Linked DNA regions of Homo sapiens. The protein of the gene in region 3 interacts with the protein of the main gene of each other region in a pairwise test. Each region holds a gene or a part of one and is shown on either strand. Other genes may lie near its edges.

What was found.
Region 1: the proteins of FAM168B (region 3) and CCNK interact in binary tests that used the Homo sapiens proteins (3 or more experiments, as listed by UniProt).
Region 2: the proteins of FAM168B (region 3) and GLIS2 interact in binary tests that used the Homo sapiens proteins (3 or more experiments, as listed by UniProt).

The regions. Positions count from the first base shown.
Region 1 is NC_000014.9:99,498,367-99,502,114, reverse strand, and holds part of CCNK (cyclin-K), read right to left. Parts: intron 1,926-3,748; exon of another isoform or gene 1,350-1,925; coding exon 1,244-1,349; exon of another isoform or gene 760-1,243; coding exon 702-759; exon of another isoform or gene 1-701. UniProt on the Homo sapiens protein: Regulatory subunit of cyclin-dependent kinases that mediates activation of target kinases.
Region 2 is NC_000016.10:4,313,902-4,317,649, reverse strand, and holds the start of GLIS2 (zinc finger protein GLIS2), read right to left. Parts: upstream 1,584-3,748; 5' UTR 1,396-1,583; intron 1-1,395. UniProt on the Homo sapiens protein: Can act either as a transcriptional repressor or as a transcriptional activator, depending on the cell context. Acts as a repressor of the Hedgehog signaling pathway. Represses the Hedgehog-dependent expression of Wnt4.
Region 3 is NC_000002.12:131,058,752-131,062,499, forward strand, and holds part of FAM168B (myelin-associated neurite-outgrowth inhibitor), read right to left. Parts: intron 1-3,748. UniProt on the Homo sapiens protein: Inhibitor of neuronal axonal outgrowth. Acts as a negative regulator of CDC42 and STAT3 and a positive regulator of STMN2. Positive regulator of CDC27.

The DNA.
Region 1 (3,748 bases), on a different chromosome or scaffold from region 3:
GCTTATTCTCCCCTAAATTTAATTAAAGTACTATAAATAAATAAACTCAAGTCTTTACTCTTCTAAAGGTACCCGACTAAGTTACTTTAACCATAGTTAGTAATTTCTCTATTCCTTAAAGAATCAGAAGAATTCTAGCACATCCAAAAATTGCTACACCAATGAAAATGACTTATGTTATTTAAACTGTTGAAATCCTAGCCACTCAACTGTTTCTTCAAATGAAATCTTATGGAGGAAGTCAAATGTAAGAGAAGCTTCACTGACTGCAGTGGGATGGGGCTGGCAGCAACTCCATTCACAGGCATTCTGTTTCCCACCACGGCCCCTCATTAGATCCCTGGCCTCTCAAAAGAGTGTTAAGGCTCTAAAACTATACCAGGAAGTATATTTTTGCAAAACCAAATGGGCTCTAAGTAATTAGTTTTCAAAATTCTCCAGTGTATTGTTTTGGACTTATGTTTCAGACTGGTGATAAAATTTCAGCACCTCACAACACCATGACACGGCAGGGCAGAAGGAAACCCTCTGCCGGGAAGCAGATGACCTGGACGTCAGCCCCAGCTTTGCCATTAACTGGCTCCTCAAGCCAGGGCAAGTCAGTTTCTTCTGACACAAAATGAGGGGTTTAGATGAAATGGTCCATAAAGTCTCTGCCTATTTTAAAATACTGTAATTAATCAACATTTGAACATGTATACCTGTCATTTACAAATGTCCATGCCATTTGAACCAACTTTTGAATTTTGTTTTTATCACCTAGAAATGGGGACAAAAAGGTAAATTAATAGCAATAGAAAAATTCACAGGCAGCATCAAGTATTTATTAAAAACCTACCACGTGTTCAGCACCACTCAAATACACAGCAAAGAGCTTTTGCGTGGGAAACAAGGATGAATGATGTGGGTCCACATCCTACCCCTTCTTCCTCCTCATGACCTACGCTGAACCACCATGTATGGAAAACCTGGCTCCAAGGCTAAGTTTATTAGTCCATTTAAAAAATTCTGCCTCATTTTCCTGCCTCTCCCATCACTTGGCAACTGGATGACAGAGCCTGTTTATACATAAAAGGAAACAGCATTAGCAGCTGCAATGCTGAATTGACTGAGCAAGCCATGCCCTTGGTATTTCACACATCAAACTTTGTTTTCCGCTTTTGAGAAGCGTAATTTGAGTGTCATCAAATTATAAAGACTTGATTTCAGAATGAAAAAATTCTTCTGAAAACTTTCTTCTTACCTTTGAGTTGCTTTGCATATTTTAGTAGGAACTGGTATGGATGTTCTACCTGTAAATCAAACTTGATGGTCTGCAGTAAGATTCTCTCCAGAACCATTACTTCCTCCTAAAAATCAATCACAAATGTTAGGACAGTAATTACAATTGCAGGTCTCAAGCAGCATTACAAAAGTGAGCTTTCCTGTCTATTTATTCTCTCTTCAAGTTATATTTTAGCAACTGCCTTTCCTTCCTTTCTCTCCCACTCAGACTTTTAACATGCTCAGAGACACTGATAAATTCTGAAAAGATCTCAAACAGGAAGACAAAGCAGAGGTGTAATGTAAAAAAAAATACTGAAAACAAAAGATCCTTAAAAATATTATTATTTTCAATACATACATGAGTCTCCCTTTACAAAACAGATCTTTACGTTATTGATAATTTGACTAAATTGTAATTTCTTTCAAGACCTCAAATTTTAAAAATGCAATCTTTTAGGAATTTTCATTGAAAACATTTTAAGCAAGAAAGAGTTTATGATAGCCAGCCTCATGAAAACTCAGAGATAAATTGTACCAGTGTGTGTGTATGTGTGTGTATATATACTCATGTACACATATAGTGTATTACGTGCAAATGGGGGCAAATCAATTTTGTGTTTAAATCTTTCATTTATTTGAAATAAATCATCCCAACAACACTTACTGAATAAATGATCATTTCCAATTTTATTTAAAATGCTACCTAAATCACCTCCTAAACTACGTGTGTATGTCTGCCTACACACACACTATCTTTTCTGTTCACTGATCTGCCTGTCTACTCCTGGACCAGGATCAAAGGGATTTGGGTGGGATACAATAGCTCCAGTATTACTTCTCTTTTTCAAACAGTTTCTGGGTTCTGCATGTCCCCCTCACTCAAATTTTAGTAACCATTTTACTTAGTATCATTACAGAAAACATACATGCTATTAATATTCTCATTGGAAACTCAGAGGATTTATAGAATAATTAGGGAGAATGGAGATTTTTAACCATATTGAAGTTTCCTTCCAAAAATTTATTAATATCTTTTCAGTCCTTTAGTTGTTTTAAAGTCCTTTCCACCCCACTAACGAGGTTTCCACAAGGTTTAACCTTGGATATTTTACTGTTGCTATCGTTAATGGAATGTCCTCTTTGATGATACTCTCTAACTAATGTCTTGAACTCAGCCCCTGTACAGCCGACTGTACCTACTGCTTAAAGACAACATAAACCACAACCAAGACACTGTGTGCGGGGAGGACAATTTGAGAGAATTCCTTGTTTGGCATCAAAGACAGGGCGTTGTAGAGGACTGTAAATCTCATCAACAGGTGCAGAGACCCACAGGTCACTGGCTTTCATTTAGAAGCATGGTATTATTTTATAGGATACAGAGATGATTCTATAATTATTATTCCAAATTACATGGCAAGACTAAGGTTTTTCAATCTTAGTTTCCCAAGCATTTTCTCATGAAAGTTTTTTAAAATCTTAGAAACTTTCACACAGTGTAAAAAAAACTGGGCTGGACATGGTGGCTCATGCCTGTAATCCCAGCACTTTGGGAGGCCGAGGCGGGCAGATCACTTGAGGTCAGGAGTTCAAGACCAGCCTGGCCAACATGCTGAAACCCCACCTCTACCAAAAATATAAAAATTAGCCAATCATGGTGGCAGGCGCCTGTAGTCCCCTACTTGGGAAGCTGAGGCAGGAGAATCGCTCGAGCCTGGGCGGCAGAGGCTGCAGTGAGCTGAGACTGTGCCACTGCACTCCAGCCTGAGTAACAAGAGTGAGACTCCATCTCAAAAAACAAAACAAAACAATTTTTTTCTTTGAATGTCATTGTCACCACCTGCTTCCCAGAAGCTTCAACACTTCCTCTAAATTTAGAAACAATTCTTTTTACCAAGTGTACCAATTGGCTTGCAGGCTGTAGCCCACATACTGTTACAGGATAGCCCAGGGCCTGCCCTCCCTCTGTCTTCCAAATATTCAATTAATGGGGTCATTATAGGTCTTTGAGCAAACATCATTCCTCAGGAACGCCTTCCCTCAGCCCCTATTTATCCGGGGGACTTGCCTGGGTCCCTGGGTGGAATGCTATCACAGCACCTTAAATGACCTTTTACAGCGTACACCACAACTCATCATCAAATAGTTATATACTCATTTGATTAAAATTTATCCTGCCACTCAACTGCAGAGTCCATGAGAGCAGAGACCATGTCTGTTCTGCCTCGTGCCTCATGTCTAGTGCCCAACACAAAGGCTGAAACGAATATTACAGAGAAAAGCCACACAATTAAAATAAAGCTAATTAAGGCAAAAAATGTTCCATGGGACTCATGATCTTATTTTTCCTAAATACTTATACTGCCTCCACTAAAGAATTGCCCTCCTGTCTGCAGAGGAAAACATCTTCCCCAATGTCTTCACTGCTCCCAGCTCCAGGTGTTTTCCTTTGGCCCCGACTCCGACCAGGGAAGACTGCGCG
Region 2 (3,748 bases), on a different chromosome or scaffold from region 3:
GGCCAGCTAGGAGGCCCAGCCTGGGCTCTGGGGAGAAGGAGAAGCAGAGGGGGAGGTCCGAGGTCACCCGGGATGGGTGTGTGGGCTGGGCCTGGACAGCTGTGGCACTGTGGCACCAGAATGGGGCTTGGGGAGGGGTGACCCAAGGGGCCAGTTTCCCCTCCCCTGAGCCCGGGGGCTGGAAGGCCCTCCGAAGCGCAGTGTCTCTGGGCTTCCTCCCCAGCCGCAGGCTGGCCCCACCTTCCCTCCAGGATGCCAGGACACGCAGGATGGCGGCCTACTACCCAGGGTGCCAGCCTCCAAGAACCATGGCCCAGGCCCTTTCCATGGCCCAGACCAAGCCCAGGCCTTGGCCAGGTCCCCAGCCGGCCTGGCTGCCCCCTCAGTGTCAAGCGTTCCCTCCAGAGCCAAGATCCTGGGCTGTGATGGCTGGGGGCCCAGGGCCCCTCCCAGCATCCCTTCCAGCTTCCCAGGCCCCAGGGCAGGGCTGGGCAACTCCTTGAAACCATTGCTTCCCGGCCACCCTCTGGCCAGGCTGGGCGGGCCCTCCTGGACAGGCAGACAGGCTGCACGCTGCCCTGCTGTGGCCCGAGTACCCTGCTGGGCAGGGCAGCATGCCAAGGCCTCCAGGTGCCAGCCTGGATTCCAGCCCCATCCCAGGGGGCCAGCGGGGAAGCTGTGCGTGCTTCTCCTCCCTCGGGATGCACCTGCCTCGCCCCCTCCTCCACCCGCTCCAGACCCGCCCTCCGGCGAGTATGGACCCCTTGCCATCTCCTCCCTGCCAGGCCGGTCGCCTGCGTCCACCCGGACCGCAGGGGAGTAACAAGTGCCTGACTTGTCCCAAACTCCCAGTCCTGACCCCCCAGGGACGCCCCTTCCCGAGGTCCAAGGAAGGACCCGGGCTTGCGAGGGGCAGCAGGAGGGAGACTCTCCCGGCCAAGGGAGGAGGCACCTTCCAAAGCCCTTCCTAGCAGCAGCCCCGGCGCGGCCGAGAGGAGGGGCGGCTGCCCCGGACAACTTCATGCCCAGGCTCCGGGTACCCCCCTCTCACCTCGCCGCACGCCCCCCACCGCGGCCGCCCAACTTCCCAGCTGAAGTTTGCGCCCGCCCCGGGCCCGGGCGCTGCTCGGCCCGGCCTCCAGACGGAGGGAAGGAAGGAGGGAGAAGAAAGACCGAGAGCTCGAGGGACCCGGCCGGGGAGCCGGCGAGGGAGGGAGCGCGCGAGCCAGCGAGCGAGCGAACGCGGGGGCCTCGGCGAGGGCTCACAATGGCCCGGGGCGCGGACGCGAGCGGGGGAGGAGACCCTCGGGCCCCGCAGCCCCGGCGCGACAGGCGGGCCCCCCCCCCCCCGCCCCGGCCCGGTCCCCACGGCGCGACGCCCGGGGGGCTTCCTACCTCAGCGGCGGGGGCGGTCGGGATCCGGGCTGCGGGCTCCGGCGGTCGGGGGGCGCGGGGAGCCGAGCGGGGGAGGGGCCGGGACGGGCGGGGGCCGGGGCGCGAGGCCTCACGGGGCGCGGGCTCCCCTGGCACGGCCGCCCGGCGCCCGGCCGCTCCGCCACATCTGCAGCTCGGGCAGGGAAGGTGGCCGCGGCGGCCGGGCCGTGCGGGGATGTCTTAGAGGGAGGGCGGGCGGGCGGGAGGAGGGAGGAGGGAGGCGGCGGGAGGAGGGCCCGCCGGCCGCGGAGGAGGGCGAGGAGGAGGGGCGCGGGGGGCGGCCTCCACCCCTCCCCTCGCTCGCTCGCTCCCTCCCTCCCAGCAAAACCCCTCTCACCGCTGCGGCCCCAGGCCCGGGGCGCCAGCTGCCAGGCGGGGCGTGCGCGTCGGGGGAGGGGGCGGCGGGAGCCGGCGCTGGGCCGAGGGAGGGGGAAGGGAGGGCGGCGCGGCCGCGGGGAGCGGGCACCGGGAGGGAGGGGTGAGGGAGGGAAGTGGGGCGCCGAGCCGCGCGCGTCCTCCTCGGCCCCATCCTCACGCCACCCCCCCCCCGCGGCCCCGCCCCCGGCCCGAGGGCAGCGCTAGGACACGGCCGGGAGGTGGCCTGGGGGGGCGGGGGAGCCCGAGACGTCCCGCCCTCGGGGAAGCCCGAGGAGGGGGCCGGGCGCGCGGGCCCAGAGGAAAAGCCCCGCAGACCGGGAAGATGGAGGAGGTCGCGGCGGCGGAGCGGGCGGGGACCCCTCGCCTCCTCCCGCGGGGTCACCTTGGCCAGGCCCCCCTGCGGCCCCGGGCGGCGGGGAAGGCGGCAGGAATGCCTCTCTGCGGGCCCTGATTTCTCCGCCCAGCCCAGTTCCAGGAACGCGCAGGCAGCGCCCGGCGGGCAGAGGTCCCGGATCCCGATGCCGGGCGGCGCAAACCAGTTTTCGGGGCCCGGCGCAACCCCTCACGCTGGTGAGACGGCGGGCGACTCCCTGCCGTGCCCTCGGTCTCAGTTTCCCTCACGGTAGAATAACGACGAGGCCCGATGCCGAGCAATCCGAGCTTCCGCTTGGTTCCTAGCTTGGTCCCAGCATTTGGGACCACCTGCGTCCACTAGCCCGAGCGCCGCGGGAGGTCTAGATCCCTCCTGGACATCAGCACCCTGCGCGGCGCCCGCGGCCAGGGCAGCGAGTGCAGTGAGCGGATACACGCGAGGGAGAAGCCCCGCACCCGGCCCAGCTGTTTTCTGCCTCGTGTTGAACCACAGACTCGCGTTCTTGAGTGTGTTTTGTTTGGGCTAATCCCGTGCCCCCCGCCCTGTTATCTTCTTGCTGCTCTGCTGTATGCTGGCAAATTGTAGTTCAAAAAAACAGCCCTCCTGCTGTTGGACACCCCCTCTTCCCAGCGCAGTTGGCCTTGAGGAGCCTAGGAGACGAAAAAGGCATCCCAGAATCAGCATCCCCTAGAGGTGAGGCATCTGACGCTGGTTTTAAGTCCGTCTTCATTCGTGCATTTGATGCTGCGGTCCCCGCCAGAGCCCGAAGCACGTGGCTCTTGATCACAAGGCATCCATGGCAGGCACAAGGCTTGGCACATAGTAGGTGCTCCTGGGCTGGTGCCCAGATGGACACATAGCAGGTGCTCATGGGTTATGTGGACACACAATCGATGCTCATTGCATTTTAAGAGAATGCACACATAGTAGGTGCTCATGGGCTGGTGCCCAGATGGACACATAGCAGGTGCTCATGGGTTATGTGGACACACAATCGATGCTCATTGCATTTTAAGAGAATGCACACATAGTAGGTGCTCAGGACGTTGTGGGTGAATGCACACATAGTAGGTGTGGACTCGTAATGGATGCTCATGTTTTGGTCTAATGAACACATATTAGGTGCTCATGACCTGTTGTGGAAATGGGCACATAGTAGGTGCGCAGGAGCTGTAGGTTGATACCTGGAAGGGATGTAGGAAGGCCGTTTGCCTGGAGCAAAGGCTCGGAAGTTGGCGATTTGGAGGTGACCTCCCCCAGCCTCCACCCTCACCTCACCCCGGTCTCCTGAGTGTGGATAATGTGGAGTGTGGCCGGGTTAAACATTAGCCGGGAGATGGGCCCCGGGGGAAGGCCAGTTTCGGGACCTAGCGCTTCCAGGAGGGGGCTATTAAGGGCCGACTCTCTGGGTCCGGCGACCTGTGCGGGCGTCCGGAAGGGCCGAGGCCGAGGCCCGCAGAGCGCCCCCTCACGGCGGCGGGAATCGCTGCGCTTCAGCCCGGAGCCCTGCCCTGCAGCCGACCGCATCCGACCTCAGGCAGGCAGAACTGCAGCCCTGGGGTC
Region 3 (3,748 bases):
TCCTCGTCTTTAAGAAGGCTAAAAAAGGAAAGTGAAAAGGAAAGCTTCACAGGTGTACACAGGTTAAAACTCATCAAACTGAAGCTTTAAATCTGTACACTTAGTTGTATGCCAATTACGCCACAACGAGGTTGTATAACATTTTCTTTAATTATAAAGAAAAAGGTAGTGTGAATGCCATCAAAGAATTATAAAGGAAAAGGTAGTGTGTCCGGCCATGTACTGATACTCCCAGGAGACCCGGGACAGTCCAATTCCCCCTAAGTGACTAGCTAACTCAGGGAAGAAATGCAAAAAGGAAGCATGGTGTGTGGCGGGCACACATGTGACTAGTGAATGGTGACTGGGGCATTGTACCAACACAGAGAGGCTATTCACCATCAACATGGGGCCATGCCCTGTCACAGCGGAGATGATCAGGACAGATCCAGCCCTCTCCATAAGGTGCTTGGCTTCAGGGGGAAAAGAAATCACAGGAAAACAAACCACCAACATAGCAGCATTTTATGCAGTCTTGGCAAGCAATGAGGAGTCAGCTCAGAGAGGGGCAGGTGGGGCAAGGATGTCTCAAATGAAAGAAACTGTGGGGATGAGGGACGTCAAGGGTCATCTTGGATAGCTCCCTTCTCCCCAGCCACACCACCTCTTTCATTTCCCACCACCATGCAGCAGCCAGACACCAGCGGGTACCTTCAGCTGTACCTAAAGGAGACACTGCCGAATGGGATCCCCACTGTACGGCTTAATCCCAGTTTTCTGCCTCATATTTCCACTAGCCTGAAAAGAGATCCTCCCAGGAGTCACCAAACTCTTATCTGACCAAGATGATATTTTTTTTATAAAAATGTCAAAACATAGAGCTACCCTCTGTGTGTCACATCCTGAGAACAGATGCTAGACTTCAAAGTTGGGAATCTCATTCCAAACTTCCAACAGTTTAAACAAACAAACCCACAGGGTTCCCTTTCTTCATACAATTAAAAACATTCATGACAGATAACTGGAAATATGAACACTGATTACAATCTCAGTAGTGATAAAAAAAATTTTTAGGTGTGACAATGACACAGTTCTAATTTATCTTTTAAAGATAATATTTAAAAAGCTGATGAATATAATGTCTGAGATTTGCTTCAAAATAATACAGAGGAAAGTGGCAGGGGCCCAGATGAAAAAGATCAGCCATAAGGTGGTAACTGCTAAAGCCAGGTGATGTGTAGGTGGGAAGTATATTCCCATGTACTTGTGCTTAAGCCAGGTGATGTGTGAGCAGGAATTTTTTTTTTTGGATGGAGTCTCGCTGTCTCGCTCTGTCACCCAGGCTGGAGTGCTGACACCATCTTGGCTCACTGCAACCTCCACCTCCCAGGTTTAAGAGATTCTTCTGCCTCAGCCTCTCAAGTAGCTGGGACTACAGGCGTGCACCACCACACCCAGCTAATTTTTGTATTTTTAGTAGAGATGGGGTTTCACCATATTGGCCAGGCTGGTGTCGAACTCCCAACCTCGTGATCCGCCTGCCTTGGCCTCCCAAAGTGCTGGGATTACAAGCGTGAGCCACCGCGCCCGGCCGTGAGTAGGAATATTCCCATGTACTTGTGCTAAAGCAAGGCAATGTGTGAGTGGGAATTATGTTCCCATGTATTTCTGTAAATATCTGAAACGTTTCCTAATCACTCTTTTGAAGTCAAAGTATTAAAAAATACAAGGAAGACTGCTACAGATTGAAAGAGATAAGAGACATAAATTCAACTTTATAAAAAATTCACTATGTGATGCTGAGTACATTATTCTGATTCCAAACGTTTTTTAAAACTTAGGGGGTAACTGGGCAAATGTAAATAGGAGCTACTTTTAAAATTAGAGACCTGCTGTTTCTAAGTGTGGACAGGCAAAAGCACACCTCACTCATGTTAGGGAGGGCTACACTCAAGTCCATTGGACAAGACACAAAGGATTCTGAATTGATTCCACAAGAATAAAAGAAAAACCACACAACACTCATCCTTACATAAGGTAAATATGGGGAAAGATCACTGGGGAATCTAAGTGGTGGGTACTATGGACATCCACTGTATTGTCCGCTCAACTTTTCTGTATACGTAATTTTTTTTTTTTGAGACGGAGTCTCGCTCAGTTGCCTAGGCTGGAGTGCAGTGGCGCAATCTCAGCTCACTGCAAACTCCGCCTCCCGGGTTCACGCCATTCTCCTGCCTCAGTCTCCTGAGTAGCTGGGACTACAGGCGCCCACCACCAAGCCTGGCTAATTTTTTTTTTTTTTGGTAGAGACGGGGTTTCACCGTGTTAGCCAGGATGGTCTTGATCTCCTGACCTTGTGATCCACCCACCTTGGCCTCCCAAAGTGCTGGGATGACAGGCGTGAGCCACCGCGCCTGGCCCAATTTTTTTAATAAGGTGGAAGGCCGGGCGTGGTGGCTCACGCCTGTCATCCCAGCACTTTGGGAGGCCAAGGTGGGCAGATCACATGAGCCCAGGAGTTGAGACGAGCCTAGCCAAGCTGGCAAAACCTCGCCTCCAAAATTTAAAAAAAAAAAAAAAGTAAAAATAAGCAAGGTGAAAAGTATACAGTACTTTCAGATGCTGACACACAACTGAGAGCGTGTACGCTAGCCAGAAAATCTCCATGGAAACAACAGTCATGCATGAGGTAAAAGAACAAGCAAGGAAGTTAGCTGAAAGGGCCCACGGATCACCACACCCAAACGCACCCCTAGAAGATGAATTATAGTCAGGCGCAGTGGCTCATGCCTGTAATCCCAGCACTTTGGGAGGCTGAGGCAGGCGGATCACCTGAGGTCAGGAATTTGAAACCAGCCTGGCCAACACGGTGAAACCCCATCGCTACTAAAAATACAAAAGTTAGCCAGGCTTGGTGGCCACACGACTGTAGTCCCAGCCACTCGGGAAGCTGAGGTGGGAGAATCAGCTGAACCTGGGAGGTGGAGGTTGCAGTGAGCAGAGACTGCGGCAATGCACTCCAGCCTGGGCGACAGAGGGAGACCCTGTCTCGAAAAAAAAAAAAAAGAAGAAGAAGATGAATACAAAATTTTGCCAAGCCTTTAAAAAGGCCATCAGCAGGAAGGATTCTATAGCAGTCTGAAAGATGCTGATCTGGAAGATGGCCTGGCAGTTAGGCATAGGCTGGAAAAAAAGTTAAACTATGCCACTGGACATGTTCAATATATACAGCCAATGTGCAACAAGAAGTTACAGTTCTATCTGATAAACTGATTCACTAAAGAAAGAATGAGAAGAAAAAGGAAAAGCTGTTAAAAGAAGTCAAAACAAGCAATAAACCCACGACCCACATCCATCAACATTGCTAATAAGAAAGTCCTTGACCTTTTTATCACTCTTCAAACTGCAGAAAGAGCTCAGAGTGAAGAGAAGATGCAAGCTGCCAACCCAAACAAACCTCTAATACAGAGTATAAAACCAAAGTGAGGAAAATCTGAGAACACCTCTCTCCAAAGAGGGAGTCTCTCAGCCACAAGTGCTCATCTGGCCCACCACAGCCACTGAAAAAAGGTGAAGTCCTTTTTCATGCCTCATTTCCTTAGGATACACAGTCGAGGGGCCCACCTACGATGTCTTCCTTTTCTTCTACTGGAAGCCTCCCACTGCAGAAATCCCTGCAGCTAGCCCTAGGTTTCCCAATCCAATCACCCAAGGTGTCTTTTTTGTTTTTGTTTTGAGACGGAGTCTCGCTCTGTTGCCCAGGTTGGAG